2 separate regions of the Homo sapiens genome follow, and region 2 is linked to region 1. The links come from fine-mapping of genetic effects on gene expression. Tissue or cell type: tibial nerve. Region 1 holds a variant in brackets; the other region holds the start of a gene. All regions are shown on one strand. Distances are between the middles of the regions. Region 1 overlaps LINC01497 (long intergenic non-protein coding RNA 1497). Region 2 holds the start of LINC01497 (long intergenic non-protein coding RNA 1497).

The links.
Region 2: it holds the start of LINC01497, and the variant in region 1 is fine-mapped to the expression of LINC01497 in tibial nerve (GTEx, PIP 0.97).

Annotation. Positions count from the first base shown.
Region 1 is chr17:69,966,182-69,969,101 of GRCh38, forward strand. All of the region lies in intron 2 of LINC01497 (long intergenic non-protein coding RNA 1497), which reads left to right. Among named protein-coding and RNA genes, the nearest start is that of LINC01497, 5.9 kb to the left of the region's middle. The variant A/T (reference allele first, on the strand shown) is at 1,457.
Region 2 is chr17:69,960,373-69,963,292 of GRCh38, forward strand. It overlaps LINC01497 (long intergenic non-protein coding RNA 1497), which reads left to right and starts at 1,335. Exons shown (of 5, transcript NR_110875.1): 1 at 1,335-1,465.

The DNA of each region.
Region 1 (2,920 bases):
CATATCCATTTCAATTTCTGCTTCAAAATAAGTCTGTTTTTGTCTGTGCTCATCTCTTTCTTGTAATACATTGCTAAGAAAGGCCAATAGTAGCAAATAGGCACTGTTACTCTCATATCAATCTCTTGTCCTCACGTCCAAAAACTACAGGCTTATAGGCTCATGAGGTGTGTTGTGCCTTTCTATTTAATGTATGAAGTGGTTTTACCATATGTTTTGCCATGAAACAACATGACCTGAACCTTCATTGTTCCAACCTCATCTATCAGCCTCCATGAGGCTATCTGAAATAATATTTGTGAATACTTATTTCCTTAATCTGATCTCTATCCTAAGGCTGCATTATAGGTTCTGGGATCCTTCCCTTTTCAGGGACAAATGGAAAAAAACAACAAGGATCACTTGTGGGATATTGTGATAAAATGGGCCTGAAATTGATTAACATCTTTTCTGCCCACATTCTGTTGGTCACAATTAAGTCATATGGCCATATTTAATTGCAAAGTGTGATAGAAAATGTATTTGTGTGTGTGTGTGTGTGTGTGTGTGTGTGTGCCCAGTGGGAAATGGCAATGGATTTTAGTGCATATGTGCAGTCTCTGTCACACCAAAAAGTACAAAACTAAGTATCTGGGTATGCCAAATTCAGCTATATTGTTAGACGGTATTGCTTAGAGCATTATGAACTATTATTGATAGTTACTGAACATTTAACAGCAAAAGATCTGTTGATAGTATGATATCAATGTGCAGACGATTTAAAAATCTTGAGGCATTCCAACTATCATACACAAATCAGAGGCAATTCATTTACTTAAGCTCATTATTGACTACCTATTATGTATTGGACTTTATGTTATGTGCTATGCAAAGAAAAAGCACAGGATATATCTGTAACCTCAAAAAGCTCTCAGTATTCCAGAAGAGGCAAACATACACACAAGTAACTAAAACACATTTTTTTGTTCTATTATGCAGTTATAAACATTATATAGGAGCACAGAAGAGGGAACTACTATGTCTAGTCTTATTTAAAAACAAAAGAAAACAGAGACAGCAAGAAAATAGTAACTATTAAGAATGCTGTGGTTTGTTTTTGTTTTTGTTTGGTTTTACTATGTAAATGAAGTATCTCATCAAATAAGGAAGACTTTATGAGCAGGGAGTTATCAAAATGCTGAACATGGCTGGACGCGGTGGCTTATGTCTGTAATCTCAGCACTTTGGGAAGCCGAGGCGGGCGGTGACCTGAGGTCAGGCGGGTGGTGACCTGAGGTCAGGAGTTCAAGACCAGCCTGGCCAACATGGTGAAATCCTGTCTCTACTAAAAAATACAAAAATTAGCCAGGCATGGTGGCAGGCGCCTGTAATCCCAGCTACCTGGGAGAGGCTGAGGCAGAAGAATCGCTTGAACCTGGGAGGTGGAGGTTGCAGTGAGCCAAGATTGCGCCATTGT[A/T]CTCCAGCCTGGGAAACAAGAGTGAGACTTTGTCTCAAAAAAAAAAAAAAAAAAAAAAGTGCTGAACATGCTGCCCTGAAGAAGCAAAACCCAAAGGTGTTCAAAAAGGTCAGTGGTTTGTCTAATTCAATGTTTTGGGGAAGATATCTTGAAATCTTAAAATCCAGAACAATATTTAAAGTAAGAAAAGAAGCAAAGCCATTTTTTCCTCTTTGGTGGTTGTTATTGTTGACGTTGAAGAGTAACTGGAAAGAATAAGTTAAATGGTCAAAAGTTTGTTTTTGAGATGCCTGCAGTATGGCACTTGGGCAACCTCCCATGATGCTAGATCCCTGTTGGGTCTGACGAAGGCAGACATTCATTAAGCCTCTCACCACCAGTGGTTGGATCCCATCCACTTCATGCAAGTAGACAACCACAAGTATTTTATTCCGTATATCAGTACCAGAAGCTAGGAGCATGGAATGCACACAGTATGCTTTGAACCTCATAATTGTTCCTTGTAATAATAAATTTTTACATTTGAACCTGTGAGTTATCAAGGAAAAAAAAACAAAAAGCCACTTTGGTTAAGGGATAGACTTAAAATAACAGGAATTATGGAAATGGAAAAATACCACTTTTCTTTGTTGGCTCAAGGATTTATGTGTGGGGAAAAAATGATTCAGAGGTGATGGCCTTTCTTGGACATTAACAAACTGTAGAGGAGTTTGCGTCCCTGACAATGGATGGTGTGTAAAATCTAATGGTGGTGGGGGTGGGAGGAAGAGGCTGGATGTGGCAGAAAAAGAGAGGCTGAGCTTAGGCAGTTTTATACTTACAAAGGGAGAAATTGTTTGGATTTTTTTTCTTTTTTGGAAAGAATATCTATTGTTAAAAGTCACTTCAGCCTTTGCTAGAGAGTGAGAATAATTGGGCTTTAAAATATTAATAGAATATGAATATTGATGAAAAGTGAAATATCCTACAAACAACAGGCTTTTTCCAGCCAATTTGTTATACTCAACTCATGCCGATCGGATTCTGAGCTTTATACAAATAAACTTTAGATGGAAAATAAATCAAACATTTAAACATTAGAAATCTCATGACAAAAGAATAGAGAAACAAATAGACATTTCTTTCCTAAGAGTTGAAATTAAAGAAAAAATTCACAGTTGAAATTTCAATACATTAAAAAATTTCTAATGTAAAAACTTATTTTCTGTTGAAATGCAAACCACATATTACAGTGATAGTTACATTACATAGGGGATTGAGTTCATCTCTTAATGCCTCATGCAAATTTATAAGAAAATAATTAGCATAATTAACAATAATTTATTGGTCGATGTTATAGTAAATGTATAAATGAACAAATAAAAATAGCAGATATGCTAATGGAAACTGTTTAATTATGCTAATAATAAGAAAGTATCATAAGTTAAGATGTTATTTCACATATTAAATTATGGTAAACACAGA
Region 2 (2,920 bases), 5.8 kb before region 1:
ATATAATGAGTTACGTTTTCATATATTTATGCTAACTCTCTAACTTGACTATATATTCTACCAAGATAGAAGTAAATATTCCTTCCTCATTTTCCTATGGATATAAATTTATACATTGTACCTATTTAATCAAATACTTGACTGGTTGGATGCCTGCATCAAATGCAGACATGACTCCCCCCAAAATGGGCTTTGTAGGAGCCTATGTGGCAAAGATTAGGGTTCCTGGGAAGCCGAATCTGAGATGAAATTAAGAGCTCGTTATGTTAATTAAGGTGCATCCTTGGATTCAACACCTCTCGAGTTAGGGGAAGGAAGCAGACAGGGCAGAGAAAGAAGTTGAGCTTCCACGGAGACCCATCACAGCTTCAGGGAATCTCATAGAGATTTCTAGAGCTAGAATGACCCTTCAGCATTTTCTCAGGTTGATTTGCAATGAACAGGCCCTTACACTCCCTCCTTGATCAGTTTTTGGATGTGGGCTCCCTGCAAAGGGATGTGTCCTTGGGCAAGGCTGCTCTCTGTAACAGAGGCAATCCTTGGAAGGGCAGCCAGCTTATGGCCATCTGCCAACAGCTGAAGAGCAACAAGTTCTTCAGTGAAGGAAGGCCTGGCCAGTGCAGCACTGGGCTCATTTATATTAGGTAACTCCAGGTAAATGTAAGTGCATTTCTTAGAGGTGGGATGAGGTACTTTGAAGTACCTCACTGAGTTTAAAGGCAAAGGTATTGATACCCACAGTTATATTCATTATTTCTGGTTGAGTTCAATTACACTGAATTTGAGATGGCAGTTTGAAAATTTACTGTCAGTAACTACCAAAAAAAAAAAAAAAGAAAGAGCAGAGCATTGTCTTCGCGATTATGCTGGGACACTTTCAGAGTAAGTCCCCAAGATACAAGGTCCAAAAAAAATACTGATGTGGTACTCAATTGTGGTTCTTTGTAGTCTCTTTCTAAGAGAACTTCAGCTGCATGTTGGATGGAAAACAATATGAAACAAGGGAGAGAGAGAAGAAACAGAGTTTGTTAATATTCTCTGCTAGATTCTGCAGAGGAATCACTTTATTTTGCAGTTGCAACTAGCTTAAGTTATGTAGCTAGAAGTTATGTAGCTAGAAAGCTGACTTGCACACTTAAAGCTAATGAAGAGAAATGCAGGTTTTCCGGGGTAGGTTCTTGGCACTTCTCTGCAAATAGGTAAAAGGGAATGGCAGATATTCAAGCTTAGGGAGCAAGCAGCAAGGACAGAGCCTTCCCCGTCTCTGTGTGTTGAAGTCAGCAGATAGCACACCTGCTGCTGCGTGAGTTCCTTCTGCCAAGCAGAGCAGCACAGCTGCAAGACACCCTGCTTCTGGCTCTGAGCTTTGCTTGTCTTCAGGGATGGAGCCCCTCCCAAGGCAAGTTCAACTGGGTTCTTTGGCAGCCGAAGTCTACACGGACCCTGCAGGGAGCGGTGGAGAAAAGTGAGTTTGACATGCTTGGAAATATTTAGATCTTGGATGTAAACTTCAAGGAAAATATTTACTCTGTTTGTTTTAATACCACAGAGGTTTGGATCCCGGGAATCTTCAGAGTACAAAAGGCTCTTGCCAAGGCACCAATTTAACAATTTGGTCAGTGACAAAAGGGCATCCTGTTTAACTAGTCTGAATTTAAATAGCATGTTTCCAATGTATTAGCATGTCTGTCTCATCTGTTTACAGAACTGTTTTCTTTAACCCCTGAATTTTGTGTTTGGTTTATGAATTTGCACAGAATCAAATACAGTTTTTTAATAGAAAGCAAGCAAAAAAGCGGATCATCACATAGTTGAAAGAGTTGCTACCCGGGCATTGACAATAAACTTCCCACGATTACTTGACCATTCAGAGCAACCAGATCCTTGTAGAAGGCTACAAGCTCTCTTTACTCATGGCTCTTGGTGAAAAATTCCTTACTGTCTCTTTGCTGGTGCTGAGAAATACTGCAGAATGCTAAAGGACTGTCCAATTATATTTTTGGCGAGTGAATTATGATAAAAGAGAAGCCTTTTGTAAATGTGACTTGAAAAGTGGCGTATTTTGTGTCCTCTCTTTGTGTTTTATGCAGAATCCCTACTGCAGGACACAACTTTCAGGACTCACACTGATTTCCCTTTAGTTTTCTGTTTTTGTTAGTCTGCAGCAGAGTGGGAAATAGTTACTGTAAAGGGAAGTCTTAAGAAAACATATCAGTTATGTGCACAATATGTGTACATATATGGAGGAAAAATAGACAAAAAAAGGAAACTGGCATCACAATGCTCTCTCTAAGGGCCTATAAGGGATGAACTGGGACTCCTTCCTGCCTTCGGATAGCACATCAGGCAGAGAAAATGTTAACCATTTTTCAACTCTCAGAAAAGCAGATTTCATGATGTCATACAATGTCCTATTCCACTGTCAGATTGCTTCCCCACTTTGGCAATTAAAAATAATTACACTTTTTTTTTTTTTTTTTTTGCTGTACTGCCAAGCCAATTTCTCCTATACAATTGTTTTTAGACATGGCGAATGAACAGCTGCTTTTCAATTATTGGACACAGTTGTATTTCAATTCTCTTTTAACAGCTGTGAAACAGAATTCCTATTCAGAATTTTATAACAGTAAACCACACAAAAAGACTACTGTTGTCTCTCTGCTAATGGAGATTTTGTGTCCCACTTCTTTTTCAGTACCATTTCCCAGATGCTGTCTATTATCTTTCCTCCATCTTTGCTTGACTGTTACTACCATGTGTATGATTCCAACCAAGTCTGATGTCTGCTGATTAAACTTTCTTTACAATACCTTGGTCATTTTTTCCCTCCGTCAGAAGAGAAAGTTATCCCACTTCTCCTAACCAGTTGACAATTAAGTGAAGAAAGAATTTTAATACCTAAATGGTCATTCTGTCACTA